Regions from separate parts of the Homo sapiens genome. Here region 1 is linked to region 2. The links come from fine-mapping of genetic effects on gene expression. A gene starts in region 2. The other region holds a variant in brackets. All regions are shown on one strand. Distances are from middle to middle. Region 1 overlaps IP6K1 (inositol hexakisphosphate kinase 1). Region 2 holds the start of MST1 (macrophage stimulating 1).

Evidence for each region. PIP is the estimated chance that this variant, and not a neighbour inherited with it, causes the effect.
Region 1: its variant is fine-mapped to the expression of MST1 in whole blood (TOPMed, PIP above 0.99).

Annotation. Positions count from the first base shown.
Region 1 is chr3:49,782,208-49,785,219 of GRCh38, reverse strand. The region is part of intron 1 of IP6K1 (inositol hexakisphosphate kinase 1); the gene reads left to right. Among named protein-coding and RNA genes, the nearest start is that of IP6K1, 2.8 kb to the left of the region's middle. The variant C/T (reference allele first, on the strand shown) is at 1,291.
Region 2 is chr3:49,688,343-49,691,069 of GRCh38, reverse strand. It overlaps MST1 (macrophage stimulating 1), which reads left to right and starts at 1,596. Exons shown (of 18, transcript NM_020998.4): 1 at 1,596-2,472. The coding sequence starts at 2,379. It overlaps RNF123 (ring finger protein 123), which reads right to left and starts at 1,513. Exons shown (of 39, transcript NM_022064.5): 1 at 1,464-1,513. RefSeq lists an enhancer at 1,683-2,242.

The DNA of each region.
Region 1 (3,012 bases), 94 kb before region 2:
AACTTTTAACAGTACTAAAATTATCTTGCTCAGTGAAAACACCTTCAAGCCCCTTTCCTGTGAATTTGGGCAAGTTGGAGATCCTCAGTAGAGTGTGCAGGTCTAGGAAGAGTTCTCATTGCTCCAAAACACATTTCTCTTGACCTGTGGCCTCTTTGGTTCTTTGTACAGTCTTCTTGTATGTGGTCATAGAATATGCCTGCATGAGATGACTAAGAAGTCAAGCGACAATACTTTGTGCACTTTTTGTTTTGTTTTGTTTTGTTTTGTTTTTTTGAGATGGAGTCTTGCTCCGTTGCCAGGCTGGAGTACAGTGGTGCCATCTCGGCTCACTGCAACCTCTGACTCCCTGGTTCAAGCAATTTTCCTGCCTCAGCCTCCCGAGTAGCTGGGACTACAGGCACGTGCCACCACACCTGGCTAATTTTTGTATTTTTAGTAGAGACGGGGTTTCACTATGTTGGCCAGACTGGTCTCGAACTCCTGACCTCATGATCAACCCGCCTCCGCCTCCCAAATTGTTGGGATTACAGGCATGAGCCACCGCGCCAAGCCTACTTTTTTTTTTTTTTTCTGAGACGAAGTCTCGTTCTCTCACCCAGGCTGGAGTGCAATGGCACAATCTCAGCTGACTGCAACCTCTGCCTCCTGGGTTCAAGCAAGTCTCCTGCCCCAGCCTCCCAAGTAGCTGGGATTACAGGTGCGTGCCACCATGCCCGGCTAATTTCTGTATTTTTAGTAGAGACCTGGTTTCACCATGTTGTTCAGGCTGATCTCGAACTCCTGACCTCCTGATCCGCCTGCCTTGGCCTCCCAAAGTGCTGGGATTACAGGCGTGAGCCACTGTGCCTGGTCACGCGCCTAGCCTACTTTGTGCACTTCTATCAGGATCTTGTCACCTCTGAATGTATAATTTTGAAAGAGGCCAGGTGCGGTAGCTCATGTCTGTAATCCCAGCACTTTGGGAGGCTGAGGCGGGCGGATCACCTGAGGTCAGTAGTTAAGAGATTAGCCTATCCAAAATGGCAAAATCCCATGTCTACTAAAAATACAAAAATTAGCTGGGCGTGGTGGTGCATGGAGGCTGAGGCAGGAGAATCACCTGAACCCGGAAAGCGGAGGTTGCAGTGAGCTGAGATCGCGCCACTGCACTCCAGCCTGGGTGACAGAGTGAGACTCAGTCTCCAAAAATAAATAAATAAATAAATAATAAATAAAATAATAATTTTGAAAGAAACCAGCTCCTTGGTCAGGAGATCCTTTAGGAAAGCAGGTGCTGAACCCAGAGGA[C/T]GCTGGCAGCTTGTTGCTGTTCGACTGAGTTTATACTGCACTTGTGAGGCAAGGGAGAAGTTGAGTAGTCTTTAGTTATTTATTTCATTGTCCTTCAGGGCCATTTTTTGAATCTTTAGTTCATTATAATCTTGGTAAGACCAGTTCCTTGGGCAGTTCTTGAAAGGAGGGGGATATTAAAATATTAGCTTTTCTTTCTTTCTTTTTTTTTTTTTTTGAGACGGAATCTCGCTCGGTTGCGCTGGCTGGAGTGCAGTGGCATGGTCTTGGCTTACTGCAAGCTCCACCTCCTGGGTTCACGCCATTCTCCTGCCTCAGCTTCCCAAATAGCTGGGACTATAGGCACCTGCCACCATGCCCGGCCAATTTTTTTGTATTTTTAGGAGAGACGGGGTTTCACCGTGTTAGCCAGGATGGTCTCGATCTCCTGACCTCATGATCCGTCTACCTCGGCCTCCCAAAGTGCTGGGATTACAGGCGAGAGCTACTGCACCCAGCAAAAATATTAGCTTTTCAAAATTGTCCCAAGCCCCTGCTTTTTTTTTTTTTCTGAGACAGGGTTTCACCATGTTGGCCAGGCTGGTCACTCCTGACAGGTGATCCACCTGCCTCAGCCTTGGCCTGGGATTACAGGGGTGAGACACCACACTGGCTGTCATTTGCATTTTTAAAAATTACTTATGTAGAGATGGGGTCTCAGTTGCCCAGACTGGGCTTGAACTCCTAGTCTCAAGTGATCCTCCTGTCTTGGCCTCCCAAAATGCTAGGATTACAGGCATGAGCCACCATGCCTGGCCTTTTTTTTTTTTTGAGACAGAGTCTCACTCTGTCGCCCAGGCTGGAATGCAGTGGCATGATCTTGTCTCACTGCAACTTCCGCCTCCTGGGTTCAAGTGATACTCCTGCCTCAGCCTCCCGAGTAGCTGGGACTACAGGAGTGCGCCAGCACGCCTGGCTAATTTTTTTTTTTTTTTTTTTTTTTAGTAGAGCCGGGGTTTTGCCATGTTGGCCAGGCTGGTCTCAAACTCCTGACCTCAAGTGATCCACCCACCTTGGCCTCCCAAAGTGCTGGGATTACAGGTGTGAGCCACCACACCTGGCCACGCCTGGCCTTTTTTAAGAGACAGTCTCTTAAAAACCTCCTAGGCTGGAGTGTAGTGACACAATTGTAGCTCACTGCAGCCTCCAACTCCTGGGCTCAAGTGATCTTCTTGCCTCAGCTTCCAAAGTAGCTAGGACTACACACATGCGCCACCATGCCTGGCTAATTTTCTTTGTCTTAATTTTTTTGTAGAGATGGGGGTCTCACTATGTTGCTCAGGCTAGTCTCAAACTCGTGGGTGCAAATGATCCTCCTGCCTCGGGTTCCTAAAGTGCAGGCATGAGCCACTGTGCCTGGCTTGTGATGGGCATTTTTAAGTGCAAATGTGTCAGACTGTTGTTATAATAGTAGACCCTCCAGGCCGGGCGCGGTGGCTCAAGCCTGTAATCCCAGCACTGTGGGAGGCCAAGGTGGGCGGGTCACGAGGTCAGGAGTTCCATACCAGCCTGACCAACATGGTGAAAAACCGTCTCTACTAAAAATACAAAGATTAGCCAGGTGTGGTGGCGTGCACCTGTAATCCCAGCTACTCAGGAGGCTGAGGCAGGAGAATCACTTGAACCTGGGAGGTGGAGGTTGCAGTGAGCCGAGATTGCGCCACTGCACTCCAGCCTGGGCGA
Region 2 (2,727 bases):
AGTCCTGCCATGGCAGGAAGGCTTGGGAGCAGGTGAGGCCAGGGGCATGCACACTAACACATAGGGCAGGGGAATGCAGGGGCTCCCAGCTTCCTACACAGGGAGGGTAGCCAGGGTCTAGGCCCATGTAACAGGGACCACTTCTTGTTCTCCAGTGTCCCTGTGCCCAGCACAGGGCTGGGCAGAGAGCAGGTACTAGATATATTTTTGCCGAACCATAACAAAATGTCTCAGCTCTGTGGAAATCAGACCAAAATGTCCAAAGTGAGGTGTCCTAGGGGCAGAGCCCCTGTATCCATCTCAGTTGTAAGCCATACTGAGTCCAGCTCACAACCAGAAGCGACAATCCTACACATTCCCCCAAGTGCAGACCACCACTGGTCTGGTCATCTCTAGCCATAAGTCCCACTTACTCCCCACAAGGCTGGAGCCTCTTTCCTCAGCCCTGGGTTCCTCCCTTCTTTTATCCATGGTCCTGATAGTTTCACCATTCCCACTCACACATGTGGCCTCCCACCTCATCCAAGCACCACCCTTGCCCAGCCCTCATGGCAAACTCCATTGGTCCTCCTAGTGCATCTATCCCTCACATCATGTTGCTGCTGCAGCTGCTCCAGAACCTGCACTGAGTCCCTGGTGCTGGCCTCACTGATGTGTAGCGGTGCTGTCCAACACAGCAGCCGTCATCCACATGAGGTTACTTAAATTTAAAGTTTTAAAAATTAACAATTCGATTTCTCAGTTGCCTTAGCCACATTTCAAGAGTTCAATGACCACATGTGGCTAATGGTTACTCTGTTGGACAGCACAAAGGTAGAACGTTCCCACCATCATATAAAGTTCTATTAGACAGCGCAGGTCTAGAGTTTCGCTCTGCAGCACTGCCTTAGCCAGCACTCCCTACTCTGCAGTTCAGTCTCTTATCTCACCCCAAACAGACCCTCTACTCCCGCCACAAACCCTTGTGGGTCTGCACCACGCCTGCTCCTCGGGAAGGTGATTTTCCCGACCTCGGGCCCTCGGTGGGCGTCCATGATCGGTGCCCCTTCACTACCAGAGTAGTTGAAGATCTGATTAAACTCAGTCATTCATTTGATGAGCAGACCTTCCAGACACCCGGAGTGGGCTCCGGGAGTCAGTTGCTGAGGACCCAGGTGAGAGGCGGACCTTGTCCCCGCCCGGGGACTCCCTGTCACGGCTATCCCGTCCAACCCCGCCGGGGTATCCGGACTCAGAACTGAACCTACTCCGTCTGGGAGCCCAAGGACGGCGAGGGCGGCGCATGGCTCCCCCAAGTCGCCCCCGCCTGGCCCCAAGCTCCACAGGACCTGCCAGACCAGCTTCCGCTCGGAGTTTCGCACCCAGATCCCTGCGCTGCAGGTGCCCTCGCACTGGACTAGCCCGGACCGCGAAGGGAATAGCCGGAACCCGCCAGGCTCAGAGCCCTGCCGCCCCTCACTCACCCGGAGCCTCGGCCGCAGCGACCCGGCTCACAACATCCGCCCAACCTCTTGGCTACGGCGTCCGTTCAGGGCCAAATCACGCGCACGCTTGCGCGCTGAGCCTCCAGCCGCGCACGCGCACTGGCCCGCGCCCAGCCTCCGCTAGGGGACCCCCTCCATGGCTTCCCACCGGGTTGTTCCAGGCCTCAGCTTCGCCGAAAGGCCTCACCACCTCCGACCTCCGCCTGCTCTGGGGATGCTCCCAGCCCTGCTGCGGCAGAACGCGACATGCTAACCGGAATCCCTAGGCCGCCTGTCTCCTACCCATACTTAGAGGCCCCGCTCAGACGGTCCTTAAAACGTCTGAAAGGCCGTTCCTGCCAGAGTCCCTGCTACCTGTTACCTCCACCCCTATTTAGTCCTAGTGGACAGCCTCGCTCACCTTCCCTGGGATGACACTTCTGGCGGCTGAGATGAGCGAGCCTCTCTGGGCTCTGCCGCCGGGTGTGGGCTGACCTGCCTACAGCTGGGGCCTGATAAGGCAGCAGCAAAAGGGTGGAGGGGAGGCAGTGTTGAAGCTGGGGCAAGTAATTTTCCCCAATTTACAGGGAAAAACCGAAATTCAGAAAAGTTTAATGTCACCCAGGGGCTGGAGCCCAGACCTCTGGCAGCTCTCACTTTCACAATGCCCTTGGGCTGACTAGGCTGCAGAGGGGTTTCACCCCAACCCCAGGGCACCTCAAGTGTCCCCACCAAACCTTCCTAACACCTGTCCACTAAGCTGTACTAGGCCCTTGCAACTGACCTATGGGACCTGAGGCCTGGCCCCTCATGGCTCCTGTCACCAGGTCTCAGGTCAGGGTCCAGCAGGCCCTGAGCTGACGTGTGGAGCCAGAGCCACCCAATCCCGTAGGGACAGGTTTCACAACTTCCCGGATGGGGCTGTGGTGGGTCACAGTGCAGCCTCCAGCCAGAAGGATGGGGTGGCTCCCACTCCTGCTGCTTCTGACTCAATGCTTAGGGGTCCCTGGTAAGTGCCCCCAACCCTGATCCCCATCTGCCTTCAGGAGGGGGTTGGCCCCATTCTCCTATTCTAGGATGAGAAAAAAGTCGGGGAGCCAGAGGCTCAGTGGGCATGGGGCAGTGACCTTGCCCTCTTGAGCACAGCTGGGAAGCCCTAGGAACACATAGACATTGCCCACTTAGGCCTCTATTAGCACGTCTGCTCTAGCACTGAAGCAGTGTCAGGACCACACAGATGCACGCACACAGCAGGCAGTGACCC